4 linked regions of the Homo sapiens genome follow. The protein of the gene in region 1 interacts with the protein of each later gene in a biochemical or structural test. Each region holds a gene or a part of one and is shown on either strand. Other genes may lie near its edges.

Region 1 (3,500 bases):
TGCAATCCCAGCGACCTGGGAGGCTGAGGCAGGAGAATTGCTTGAACCTGGGAGGCGGAGGCTGCAGTGAGCTGAGATCGCGCCATTCCACTCCAGCCTGGATGATAGAGCAGGACTCTGTCTCAAAAAAATGAAAAAAAAGAATAAAAAATAAAAACAAATATATATATATATATATATATGGCATCTGTATTTGGACTCCACACAAGATTGGCCTCTGGGTTTTTCCTGATGCCATGGTTTCTCCAATGGCCTCCATCTATGATGTTCCTTTACTCCTTTTGCTCTGTACCCCATGCCCGTACCTCTTTTACCCCATTGGCCTCTCCACTCTAGTATTCCCATTATCTCCACAGTGCACCCCAGTTCCCATGCATTCTCTCCAAGTCCCAGGAAATCAAAATCCCTCACAAACTAGACAGCATTTGTTCCCCTAAATGACCTCTGCCAGGACACACATACACACTTAGTTGTGGATGAGGTCTGCATTCTGAGCCCAGAAAACCCTACTTTCCTCTTTCCCTTGATTCTTCTTCTTTGCCTCCCTGAAAGGTGGACAGGAGAGCTCAGGCTTGAACCTGGGCAAAAAGATCAGTGTCCCAAGGGATGTGATGTTGGAGGAACTGTCGCTGCTTACCAACCGGGGCTCCAAGATGTTCAAACTGCGGCAGATGAGGGTGGAGAAGTTTATTTATGAGAACCACCCTGATGTTTTCTCTGACAGCTCAATGGTGAGTCTGGAACTTTATCACTATCTCAAAGCCTGGTGCCTGTTCTGACAGCTTGTTAGTAGGCCCTGAACCTCCAAAATGCAGTCAACATCCCCTCCCTGAAAATTTATAAATTTGTTAAACCCCCAGATATATTGAGCCCGCAACAGCTCCAGGGTGAGTTACAGCCCACCTCTGAAACCCAGTTTTCATCATAGAGCCACTGAAGGGTTGGAGAATACCACACCCTTAGGGAGAAAATTCCTTCCCAGTAAAGGTAAGTGTTAAAGATAGATTGCCAGATAAAACACAGGATGCCCAGTGGGGCAGTCCAGTCTTGTATTTTGAAGTTGAGATACACAATGAATAATTTTTTAGTGAAGTATGCTCCATGCAATATTTGGGACATAAAGATAAAAATTTAAAAAAATTTTAGAAAGAAGATAAGGCAGCCAGGCATGGTGGCTCACACCTGTAATCCCAGCACTTTGGGAGGCCGAGGCAGGTGGGTCACCTGAGGTCAGGAGTTTGAGACCAGCCTGGCCAACATGGTGAAACCCCCATCTCTACTAAAAATACAAAAAATTAGCTGGGCGTGGTCGTGGGTTCCTGTGATCCCAGGTACTCAGGAGGCTGAGGCAGGAGAATCACTTGAACCCAGGAGGTGGAGTTGCAGTGAGCCCAGATTGTGCCACTGCACTCCAGCCTGGGCAACAAGAGTGAAACTCTGTCTCAAAAAAAAAAAAAAAAGAAAGAAAAAAGAAAAAAGGAAGAAGATAAGGCAAAGAATAAAATTGAAATTTTAAAATACAGAATATACAATTAAATTTGAGTTTCAGATGCACAATGAATTCTTTTTTAAATATGTCCCATGCAATATTTGGGACATTAAAATAAAAATACAGGATGTCCACTTAAATTTGAATTTCAGATGCAAATGAATAATTTTTTTAGTATAAGTAAGTCCCAAGCAATATTTGGAGGCATATCTATACTAAAAAAGTATTTGGGTCAAGTGTGGTAGCTCACACCTGTAATCCCAGCACTTTGGGATGCCAAGGCAAGAGGACTGCTTGAGTCCAGGAGTTGGAGACCAGCCTGGGCAACATGGCAAGACTCTGTTTCTACAAAAAATTAAAAAGTTAGCTGGGTCTGGTGGCGCACACCTGTAATCCCAGCTACTCTGGAGGGTGAGGTGGGAGGATGGCTTGAGCCTGGAAGGTAGAGGATGCATGAACATGAGCCATGTTCACACCACTGCACTCCAGCCTGGGTGACAGAGAACCCATCTAAAAAAAAAAAATAAAAATTTGTTGTGCATCTGAAATTCAAATTTAAGTGGTATCCTATATTTGATTTGCTAAATCTGGCAACCCTAGAAAGAGTTAATTGAGTTTTTACAGCCACCTCCCATTTGAGCCATTCTTCCATTTAAAGGGTCAGTCTATTCCCTAAGAAGCCCCAGGTGTGGAGACTGAAACGGTCCTTCAAGATATATTCTAGTCAGGCTCCTTCTCCAAAGAAAGAGGAGACTGGAGAGGGGCCAGGCACAGGATGGTATAGCTGAGGAAGAAGGGCCTTCTCCATTTCCTTTCTTCCTCCTCCACCCTCTCTGAGTGGCTGGGGGAGAGTGGAAATAGATGCCTGCATGGGGCCGGGGGCAGAAGTGTCTGTCATTGGTCCTCATATAGGAGCAGAGTAAAAGTGCTGAGCTGCTCATATCTAACTTTAGGAGGCCAAAAGCACTCTTCTCTGCCTGGGTCTGGTTACACTGGGTGGAGCATTGGGGTGTACATGGTGGGATGGCCAGGAGAGCCTCCTGAAGAAGTTGGTGGGGTTATTTTTAGGCTTTGGGTTTGCATCTAATGTTGCCCTTTTGGCCACACTTCCCCCCACCTGCTACAGTGTCACTGTCACCAGTGAGGTCCAACAGGCACCAAGAGGAGAGAGGAAGAGAAAGAAGGAGAGAGAAGAGAGTTCTGACTGTTGGACAAGCTGAGGAAGGGAGGGGGCAGAATTTCTCTAGTCCTTGTAATTAAGACTGGGTGCTCCATGGCAACCCCATCCTCCCAAATTTTAGTTGGGGCTGGACACAGCTCATGCCTGTTATCTCAGCACTTTGGGAGGCTGAGGCAGATGGATCACTTGAGCCCAGGAGTTTGAGACCAGCCTGGGCACATGGCAAACCCTGTCTCTAGGAAAAAAAAAAATACAAAATTTAGCTGGGTGTGGTAGCATGCCAGTAGTCCCAGCTACTTGAGAGGCTGAGGTGGGAGGATTGCCTGAGCCAGGGAGGTGGAGGTTGCAGTGAGCCGAGATTGTGTCACTGCACTCCAACCTGGGTGACAGAGCCAGATTCTGTCTCAAAAAGCAAAAGAATTTTTTTTCATTTTTTTTTTTTAAAGCTGGGCAGGCGTGTTGGTCTTTTTTGACTTGTTAAGGATGAGAAAGGGGAGTGTGGAGAACACGCTGCCCTTACCCTAGGTATAACTGGAGGAAACGAGCCAAGGGAGTCCTACCTCTTAAGAAGAGTTTAATTCGGGCTGGGTGCGGTGGCTAACGCCTGTAATCCCGGCACTTTGGGAGGCCGAGGTGGGTGGATCATCTGAGGTCGGAGTTTGAGACCAGCCGGACCAACGTGCAGAAACCCCACCTCTACTAAAAATATATCAAATTAGCCGGGTGTGATGGTGCATGCCTGTAATCCCAGCTACTCGGGAGGCTGAGGCTGGGAATTGCTTGAACCTGGAAGGCTGAGGTTGCGGTGAGCCGAGATCGTGCCATCACACT
Region 2 (3,500 bases), on another chromosome or scaffold:
TGCAGAGCTAGGAAGGCAGTGACCGCCATAACCATCCTTTCTCTTGGAAAGCAGACTCAGGTGGCCATCCTGACCTTTGGTTCTCCCTGCCTGCAAGTGCTTCTGCTTTATGGTGGCGTGAAAATGGAACTGGCTGTAGGAGGCTGAGATGAGCTTTTATGTATGGCCAGAATCCATCTGGTCAATCGCCGTGGAATGAAAGACAGGAAAGAGGAGCTGCAGGGAGGCTCCAGGTGGGCTCACTTTGTCTCATTTGCTCAGCCATCTCACTAACTGCTGCTCTTTAAACAGTCAGAGGTTATTCTATTTTTCTTCTTAGCATCATTGTGGAACAAATAATGAATGAGGAACATAGATACTTAATGTTTTTAGATGTCCTCCACATGCACCTTACCAGTAGGTCAGGAGGTTACAAAAGGTCATGGCTGGTTAAGAGTATGGGCTCCTGGCTGGGTGCAGTGGCTCACGCCTGTAATCCTAACACTTTGGGAGGTGGAGGCGGATGGATCACTTGAGATCAGAAGTTCAAAACCAGTCTGGCCAACATGGTGAAAACCTCTACTAAAAATACAAAAAATTTAGCCAGGCGTGGTGGCACACACCTGTAGTCCCAGCTACTTAGGAGGCTGAGGCAGGAGAATTGCCTGAACCCAGGGGGTGGAGGTTGCAGTGAACCAAGATCGCACCACTGCACTCCAGCCTGGGCGACAGAGGGAGACTCTTGTCTCAAAAAAAAAAAAAAAAAAAAGCATGGGCTCAGAGGTCGGATGACCAGCAGCTAAATTGAGGCTCACCTCACTCTAGCTGTGACCCTGGGCAAACTGCTTACTGTCACTCAACCTCAGTTCTTAGTAAAACAGGGATGATGACAATACCTACCAACCATACACGACTGTTAGCTTTATTATTTTACCAACATCTTGTACCTCCTGGAGGACCTTCTATGTAACAGCATTCATTGCAACAACACTCTTCAGTTTAAAGGTTGAGTTAAAAAGATCACTTTAAAGTCCCAAGTCAAATAAACTACAACAAACTCACATGAGAAAAATCACAGGGCCAATGCTTTGAGCAAAGGCATAAGTCTTACCTCACAGGAATAGCTTTAGGCACTGTGCTGATATTATTTATTTGATATTTAGGCTTCTCTGCATGGATAGAGAAAGTTTCAACTCCACTGTCAAACTCAGGAGGCTGTGCCAAACTGTGCGATTTCACAAGAGTTTTTGGAGAAGTGGGAGTTTTTGAAGACAAGTCAGGTTTATGTGCAGTTTCACTTGGCAGAAGATTGTGATTGAATTTAGGACTTTCAAACTTGCGTTCAAATGGTCGGGCAGAACTTGTATATGGTTTTGGTGTGAATCGATTGTATGCTGGAGTGACTGTTTTCTGAGTCTGTTCAGTTCCATTAACTGGGGCTTTATCTGGAAAACTTTTCTGGGGATAGAAAGCTGCCTGAGCAGTATCTTCTCGGTTTGGTGGTCTGAAAGTTGCTGGCTTATTCTGAGATGGAGGTGGGTCTGGTTTGGACACTAAGGAATTCTGAAAATCCAATGACACTGAATTACCTGAAAAACAAACGTAAGCATTTAAATAACTTTCTGAAAAAAGTTATAATAGCCCTGTCCCAGCTTAACTTGTCCTGGTGCTGGAGTCGAGGCCCAAATGTGGGTCGCACAGCCAGAGCCTGACTCTTGAGCCCTGGAGGCTAGGTGTGATGCTGAGGGATGAGGGCAGCATGGACAGGTGGTGCCATGAATATATATACCCTGCTGCCCTGGAGTCAGGGTCCAGCTGCTAAGATTCCTGGCCTCCAAAGATTGGCACTAGTCTTTGTGAAAACTAGAATGCCCAATAATCATATAATAAGGATACTCACTATTAATTAGAAAAATGTAAAACAAAACCAACAAAAAGCATTAAATACTATTTCACACCCACTAGAATGGAAAAACCGAAAAGTCTGATGATGCCAAACATTGGTTAAAAAGTGGAACCACAGGATTTTTTATGCACTGCCAGCCACAGTGTAACACAGTACCAACTGAACTCTGTGAAATAATTAAGGACACTACAAGACAGGAGAATTATTAATCCAAATACCTCATGAATATAGTAATATAATTTTCCACAGTACGAGAAGAAAAATCATATGGTCATCTTAATACATGCAGGAAAAACATCTGACTGCTTTCAGCAAACTCTGAATATAGGGAATGTCTTAAACATGATAAAGGACATCTACGAAAATCCTAGAGCTAACATTCTAAAGGATAAAACATGAGGTCCTTCCTCCTTAAAATCAGGAACTAGCAAAAGAGGTCCAATTTCACCACTTACATTTCAGAGTTTATTGGAGGTCCTGGCCAGTGCAATCAGCAAGAAAAGAAAGAAGGCTAGGTGCGGTGGCTCATGCCTGTAATCCCAGCACTCTTGAGAGGCCGAGGTGGGCGGATCACCTGAGGTCAGGAGTTCGTGACCAGCCTGGCTAACATGATGAAACCCTGTCTCTACAAAAAATACAAAAATTAGCCGGGCGTGGTGGTGTGCGCCTATAGTCCCAGCTACTCAGGAGGCTGAGGCAGGAGAATCACCTGAACCCGAGAGGCAGAGGTTGCAGTGAGCTGAGACTGCGCCACTGCACTGTAGCCTGGGCGAGAGCAAGGCTTCGTCTCAAAAAGAGGAAAAAAAAAAAGAGAAAAGGCATAAGGACTGGAAAGTAAGAATTAAAACTGTCTTTATCTGTAAACATGGGCATGTGTGAAAAAAAATCTTAATAAAAGATAGCCTCAATCCAGAACTATAACACATCTGCTTGAAGACTCACAAGCCCAAGGAGGTGCCTCCTAAGGGAATAATAAGAGAAGTCTGTGCTAGGAAAATGCCTGTCCACAGCAGAAGAGATAACCACTTTGTGTTATATGCTGAGGGTAAAATGTTACAAAGCTCTTAAGATGAATAATCTGGAGCTATATGTGATCTACCTGGTATGTAAATGCAAAAGTCAAGGTGTATGGGATACATTTTATATGAAACATTATGGCTTTTCTATTTGGGTGTGTGAGATAAAACATAGTAGGTTTTACAAACCATCTTTACATATACTGGCAAACACTACTTCCAGAAGATTTAGAGACTAGCATAAAATAGATTAAAATCTGTTTAGCTAAAAGGCTTGTCCAAAATAATGGTCTTGTAAAAACAGGAGACATACTTTTAACAAAATTCTTAGTTTTTACTGTTCCCAGCCCAAAGGTTTCAAGCATGTATTTTTTAATGTAAAAACCATTTTGCCTAGAAACCACCAGAATTTTACTTCATAAGCATTACTGTGTTAAAATGTCTACTTCCGAACTTCCTACCTTCACCATGTGCTCCCTTAGAATGTATGTGGAGAGACGCGCTGGTGACAGGCTGAGATGGCTGGGCATACTGCGAGGGCAATGGAGGAGGAGGGGGAGTGGCCTGGATGGGTTCATAGCGTTTCTCGCCAAATGATC
Region 3 (3,500 bases), on another chromosome or scaffold:
CCCTCTGCCCTGAACACAATTCCCTCTCCTCTTCATCTAATAAGGTTGTAGAACAGACCTTAGCTCCTCCTGACTTCCCAAACTCTAGTATCTTTCACCTGCTGTGCAAGCACTAGCCTAGTGTCCAACACATGGTAGATACACAATCAATATTTACATGGTAAGCGGCCAGAGGTACGACATTACTGGTATTAGATAGACACAGACTCTTTCTCCATCTGGTCTCTGGCCTGAATCTAGGATAGGGTCTTAACTTCTTTTGGGCCATGGACCACATTTTCTCCATTCATTCTCTCGACTGACAAAATAATAATCAATCAACTCCTACTATATGCCAGGTACTCTTCCAAGCCCTGGGCATGCAGCACTGAATAAGACAGCAAGTTTCTTCTGGAATTTACATTCTAGTGGAGGGGATAGAAGATAAACAACTAATACACATAATCAAGCCAGATGATTTCAAAGAGCAAACATGACCTGAAACCTGACACCTGAAAGGTGAGTGATTCTTGCCTTAAGTATCGGGTAGGAAGTAGCCTGGGCAGAGAGAACAGTAAGTGCCAAGGCCCAGGTACGGTTACAGCATAGTGGGGTCCAGGAGAAAGATATGAGATGAGAATAAAGGGAGTTCTGCATGAGACTTTGGAGGTCTAAGCCCTCTGAGGCCCATTTACAGACTCTGCTCAAGAACCCCTGCTGAAGGGTTCTCAAAATACTTACTCTTTCACTTGCACAGTGGTGGCGTAGTTGGAGCAGGCACTCTCCACGGACACGGAGAAGCCCCGCCTGCCTTCAGTGGTGGCCGGCATGGAGATGAGCGTGACAGAGTAGGGCAGCTGCTCCTGAACAGACTCTGTGGAGAGTCTCTCAAACATGGGTGCCAGCACCACCTCATTGTGGCACTTCCCACTGGGGAGAGGGCACAGGGGGGAATAAGATGCTAGAGTCCCACACAGAAGCCCCCCAGCAACCACTGCACCATGTGGCTTTAAGCAACAGTACCCATAGTCTCACTACCACCCTCTTTGTCATGATTCTAGCTGGCTGCTCAGAATGAGGAGCCTGGGTTCTCAGGGTGGGCTGGGACTGGGGGTGCTGAGCTAGATCTGCAGCAAGTGGTATATTTGGAAAAACACTGGCCTGGGTTGGGGTGAGATGGTCTGGGTTCTCTTCACTCTACCTTTGACTCACAATGAGAACCTTGCCCTTGTACTATTCTATTCCATGGGCCCCAGGCTGACTTCTTTTATCAACCAAGGTGGTTGGACAGGGTGAGCTCTAAGGGGTCTTTGACTTTAATGTTCTGGGATCGTCCTTGAAGAGTGCCTCCCACTGGGAGGATTGCAGGGCAGAGTGAAGACATTTTCAAGGTTGGTAAGGAAAAAGGGTAGAGACATGTGTAAATCATTCTGCTTACAAGTTAAAGAGCTGGTTAAGAGCACTGCTGTGGTAAGAATCCAATGCTCTGACTACCCTAACACTCCTTCTGCCCAACTCACCCTGCCACTGTCCCTCCCCGCCAGCCACTCTTATATGGGAGAGGATAGACAAAGGACCACTATCTTACCAGTAGAGGGTGGCATGCTGCACCAGTGCATATGCATCCCCATCCTCAATGATCACCTTGCAGCTCATACAGGCAAAGCACTCTGGGTGGTACTTGAACTCCCCAGCCACCTGTGAGCAGGTGGGGAGAAGGGTGTACAAAGGGAGGAAGGAAGTGAGTTATCACTGTTGCTGGAGTGAGGACAGGGGTGGGTGAATGACCTCCAAGCAAGGCCCCCGTCAAAATCCACTCTTTCACTCTCTGCCCTAGAGCTTCCAAAGGAAGTGTCAGATTGGTACCTCCTGTCATTTCTGAGACTGCACAAAACTGTTTTGGTCTCAGTTATGAGAAGAAATCCCCAGAAGTAATCATCCCCACTAAAAAAGATCAGTTCTTCCAATACAGGGTTGGCAAGTCTGTCACTATGCTTAAAGTCGTTTGTCCAGAGCAGGTATAGGAGGTAGCCCCTCTCTCTGCCAGCCTATTCCAGAGTCTCCTTTTCTGATTCCCTAAAGACAACCTAAGTATATCCTCCTCTCAGCCTGTAACACTCTCCTTGGAGGTCCTTATCCAACTATATTGTGTCTCCTCTCTGCCTGCCTCTCCTCCCACTCCCAACGTTCAACTATTAAGTCTTTGAGGGAAGGATCTTACCTTTCACTTAGTAGGTGCTCAATTGATACCTGCTAGTTGAATGAATGAATAAATAAAGGGAGATGCCCTGGCTGATGGAAAGACTAAAAGATTAACAGGCCACAGGGAACTGGAAGCACTGTCAATGGACTCTGAAGACCAAGAGGGGCAGATATGAAGGGATTCACTCACCATAAAAGGCCCTGTCATCAGCAGGGAGCACCCATGACAGAACTCCCCAAACTTCCCCCAGTAGTCCTTGGGGCAGTAGAGCTTCCCATCCTTCTCATAGTACCAGTTGGTGAGGGAATCCTGGCATTCTGAACACCTGAAAGGCAAGACAAGAACTGAAATTCTCCTGGATCCCTGGAACCAGGCCACATAAGCTGTCCCTGGTTCCTAGGTATGACAACAAAATGGACAGTCCTCTTTGATCCAAAGCCAAGATGGGGCAAAGTTACAGCCTTGTGCTATCTCCCCAAGGGAAGCTGGTTCAGACTGAACAAGGCCCCAGAAACCAGCTCTGTGTTGCCTGCCTCAGTGGACAGACTAGTGTTTCATAACCTCTTTGGGTCTTGGGGCCCTCTGAGAATTTGATAAAAGCCAAGAAGCCTCCCCTAGAAAAATGAATATATAAAGAAGATGTGTATATAATTTAGGTGGGGGACAGGGTGTATATATAAAGGATTCTCTGAAACCTATTTATGGCACCAGTTAAGGATCTCTGGTCTTGACAGATACTTCAATGAACAAAAGCAGTTTAATCATCTCCACTCTTCAAAACTGACCCATCACCAACAGCGTTACCAATGTAATGTTCTTGCCAAAAATACGTTAAGTATAAAAAAACTAATCAGGCAAATCTAGAATGTGGGTTATTCTATAAGAATAACCGGTCTTGACTCTTCTAAAAAGTCATGGGGAGAAGAAAAGGCACAGATTTTAAAAACCCTAGAGACACAGCAACCAAATACAATGCCTCAAACTTGGATTCAAATTTAGATTAAAAAAGGAAACAGCCATGAACATTTTTTGGAACAACTGAGGAAATATGGATTTGGACTATAATATTATATTGTAAAATTGCCGTGAATTTTCTTAGATGTAATGATATCTGACTTATATAGGAGAATTCTTAGCAGAAACATATTGAACTGTTCAAGGGTAAAATCAAGATGCCTTTAAGTTACTCTGAAATAGTTCAGCAAAAATAAATAAATAAAAGTATACAGATAGAGGGAGAGAGATATATACAAAGTGGCATAACATTAACAAATCATGAATCTATGTGAAAGGTATGTAGGTGTTCTTTGAACTACAT
Region 4 (3,500 bases), about 25 Mb from region 1:
TCAGGCTTCCTTTTACTGGTCGCTGGCAGCTCTACTGTTAACTGCCCTCCCTTTTTTTTTCTTGCCTTGGCTGTAAGCCTCCTTATTCCTGTATTTGCTTGAGCTATCATAGCCCAACATTGTTGGAAATAGAGTAGGTAGTGAAGGGAGGCAGGAAGGAGATGTGTAGGATGGTGCACAGGAACCAGTTCCAGGAGGGCTGGTGCCAGGCAGGAGGCAGATCAAGGCTGAGCTGTCAGAACTCACTCTTCAATAGATTCAAGATGGGTTAAACAGTGTCTGGCTGGAGAGTAAATGTATTAGACATTTTAAAAAAGTGCCATCTAGGAATTTCTTTTGTTTCTTCTATCAGTATCATTTTTGTATGATGCCAGTCCAGAGTGCAGGCAGCATCTGAAGTATTCACTTGTTAATTTACTGAGTCATTCAGCCAGTGGGGGAAGAAGGAGCTCCAGATGCGAGTGTCCCCACAGAGCCTGCAGAAGGACAGGAGGCAAGGGGGTTGTGGTGCGTCTAAGGCTGGAAAAAGGCCATGGGGGAAAGAGGAAGCTGCTAGAGATCAGTCCAAAGCGGTGGGCCTGAGGTCCTGCAAATCTTGCTCAGGATCTGAGCTGATCCTTTGGAGAATAGAAAGTGGCTGAAAGTTTTCACGAGGTGTGACATGGTCAGATTTGTGTTTTAGGAAGAGGACTCTGCAAGACAGAGAATGGATCAGGGCAGGGGCAAGGTATGGTTGTAGGAAACCATTTTGTAGAATTTACATTTCAGTGGTCATTCAGGGGAGGGTGCTGGTGGCTTAGACCAGGTCAGTGGTGGTGGGGTTGGAGAGAAACAGGCGGATTTTAGAGAGATTTTGGAGATGGTGATTAACGGGCTGGGAAGTTGAGGGATGGGAAGGAGACAAAAATGTCGTCTGAATGTTTGGCTTGAGGGGTTAGGTGGTGGGAATGCCATTTGCTGTATTCAAATAAGAGAGGTTGAAAGAGGAGGAGGTGGGGGGAAGGTGAATTCAGCTCTCTACATCTAAGGGGGTTGTCTAAAGGACATCCTGGGATCACCAAGCAGGAGCTCAAGAAACGGGTCTGAGCTTAAGACATGGCTGTGGAGGGGATGGACTGATGGTTGGTAACTTTGGAGCATGTAGAGTGATTTGAAGAGGGAGCCAGGGCAGAGAGAAACCCAAAGACCACTGACATTTGGCATTGCCTTTATTCATTGTTACAAATAATACCATGGCAAATATCTTTGAATATACATCTTTGTCAATTATGTTCTTGGCATCAATTCCCAGAAGAGGAAGACCCTGATGGCAGGAATGGACATCCCTTGGCTTTTGATACAGATTGCCAAACTGCTTTACAAATCAGCTGTCGCAAATTGGCCACACATAAGTAAGGTCTCTGAGAGGAACAGTGTCATTGCCACCTCATGGGCACTGAGCGCTCATCATCGAAGCCCACTTGAGGGATGAAAATGGGCCTCGAGACCACGTCCACTAGCAGCTCCTTGGATTATAGGCAGGAGTGGACAGTTTTTCCATATTGTTTAATAAGGAATCACCGTTTCTTTTATGACTTTTCTTAGTCTCACTTTCTCAATTACCTACTGCTGTTGGGCCCATAAGATTTTTCTCTCTGATTCTTTGCACAGAAATAGTCACTTTCGGTTTGACCTTCATCCCTTATCCCAGCTGGCTGTATAGCTCTTTGTAGATATCACTGTGGGAAGCAACTTCCTGACTCAGGGCCTGAGGAGGGGTATGTGGTAAATAAAGCCCAGGAGAAGAGCTTGAGACCAGAGTCCTCTCCCTGAAACCACTCGGAGTGGGATTCTGGACAAGCCTTCACCCTCACACCTTGGCTGTCTCCCATTTCCCATCTGTGCTACAGCAGGTCTCCTGGGTCTGTCAAGTGTGAGTTAAGGACCCCCTCTTCACTAACCAGTATTTTTAATGGTCTGCTCTGGATGGATTAATTTGACTGAATGAAGCTGCTTCACTTCTAGAGGAAAATTTTTAAACAAAGCATTCACCCAGTGGGGTTTGTGACAGGGCAAGCCACTTCTCAACCTGCATTAGGCTGGGAACCCACGGACGGCCTGGCCCTGCCTGAGTCCCATCAGCCAGAGGTTTATCCCTCAATCATCACTGCAGGAGGAGAGAAGGCTATGCTCTCCGTGAAGGGGGAACTCTCAGGCCTGTTCAGCTTCTGCATCCCTCTGAAGGCTGCATTTCAGTGACGCTGGCCACCCTTGTACTAGGTACCACCTGCCCCACCAGCAACATCCACATGCAACACGCCTCTGTGCATCCTATTTCCTATATGCTTAGAAATGTTCCCTAGGAGGCAGAGAATTGGCATTGCTGGGACTTGGCAAATACATGTTCTCAATTTTGATAGATGGCTCTGAAAAATCTATACCAATTTAATTCCCATGTTAATGGGTGTTATGAGAGGGCCTGGTCTGCAGCCCCCACCTTGCTAACATCAAATATTTAAATTTTTGACCCTCTTGATAAATTCTCATTGCTGTTTTGTTTTCCCTGATTTACTAGAAACACAGCAAATCTTTTCAAATATTTATTGAGTAGTTGTATTTTTTCACCTGTTTATTTCTTAACTTTTAAATTAAAGAGTTGTTTTTTTCTAATTGATGAGTAAATAGTAACCCTTTTGCCATTATATATATTTTCTCCTAATCTGTTGCATATTTTTGTTTACATTTAATTTTCATATATGGTCAGATAAAAAGTTGCAAAGAAGTTGCAAAGAGCACAGAGAAGTCCCTATACTCTTCCTCCAGTGTCCCCCAGTGATTATATCTTACCTAACTACAGCACAATGGCAAACCCAGACATTTGACATTGGTACAATATGTGTGTAAAGTACTATGCCATTGTAATACTTGTGTAGATTTATGTAACCACTACCACAATCAAGATACAAAACTATTCTATCGCCACAAAGATCTCCCCCAGCTCCCATTCTACTCCCTACCACCCTGCTTCTACTATCTCTGAGATCAGTCTCACAAGCTGTGACCTTTTGAGACTGGTTTTTCTCATTCAGCCTAATGCCCTTGAGATCTAATCAAGCTGTTGCACGTATCAATAGTTTGCTCTTTATTGCTGAGTAGTATTCCATGGTATGAATATACCACAATTTGTTTAACCATTCACCAAATGAAAGACATTTTGACTTAACAGTTTTTGGCTATCACAAATAAAGCTGCTATTACAAATAAAACACACACGTTCACATGCAGCTTTGTGTGTGGATATTCATTTTTTTTCCTCTGGGATAAGTGCACAGAAGCACAATTGCTCAGTTGTATAGTAAGAGTATGTTTAGTTTTTCTCTTTTTTAAAAAGAAACTGACAAACTCTTTTCTGAAGTGGCTGTACCACTTACATTCCCACCATCAACTTAGAAGAGATCCAGTTTCTCTGTATCCTCATAAGCATTTGGTATTGTCACTTTATTTTTTTTTCCTGTCATATA

The links.
Region 2: the proteins of MYOZ1 (region 1) and TJP1 interact in a test that uses a peptide from one of them, tested with the Homo sapiens proteins (one large-scale study listed by IntAct).
Region 3: the proteins of MYOZ1 (region 1) and LIMK2 interact in a test that uses a peptide from one of them, tested with the Homo sapiens proteins (one large-scale study listed by IntAct).
Region 4: the proteins of MYOZ1 (region 1) and FRMPD2 interact in a test that uses a peptide from one of them, tested with the Homo sapiens proteins (one large-scale study listed by IntAct).

The regions. Positions count from the first base shown.
Region 1 is NC_000010.11:73,634,975-73,638,474, reverse strand, and holds part of MYOZ1 (myozenin-1), read left to right. Parts: intron 1-552; coding exon 553-731; intron 732-3,500. UniProt on the Homo sapiens protein: Myozenins may serve as intracellular binding proteins involved in linking Z-disk proteins such as alpha-actinin, gamma-filamin, TCAP/telethonin, LDB3/ZASP and localizing calcineurin signaling to the sarcomere.
Region 2 is NC_000015.10:29,707,469-29,710,968, forward strand, and holds part of TJP1 (tight junction protein 1), read right to left. Parts: coding exon 3,363-3,500; intron 1,569-3,362; coding exon 1,091-1,568; intron 1-1,090. UniProt on the Homo sapiens protein: TJP1, TJP2, and TJP3 are closely related scaffolding proteins that link tight junction (TJ) transmembrane proteins such as claudins, junctional adhesion molecules, and occludin to the actin cytoskeleton.
Region 3 is NC_000022.11:31,257,298-31,260,797, reverse strand, and holds part of LIMK2 (LIM domain kinase 2), read right to left. Parts: intron 2,508-3,500; coding exon 2,372-2,507; intron 1,678-2,371; coding exon 1,568-1,677; intron 910-1,567; coding exon 721-909; intron 1-720. UniProt on the Homo sapiens protein: Serine/threonine-protein kinase that plays an essential role in the regulation of actin filament dynamics. Acts downstream of several Rho family GTPase signal transduction pathways.
Region 4 is NC_000010.11:48,268,197-48,271,696, reverse strand, and holds part of FRMPD2 (FERM and PDZ domain-containing protein 2), read left to right. Parts: intron 1-3,500.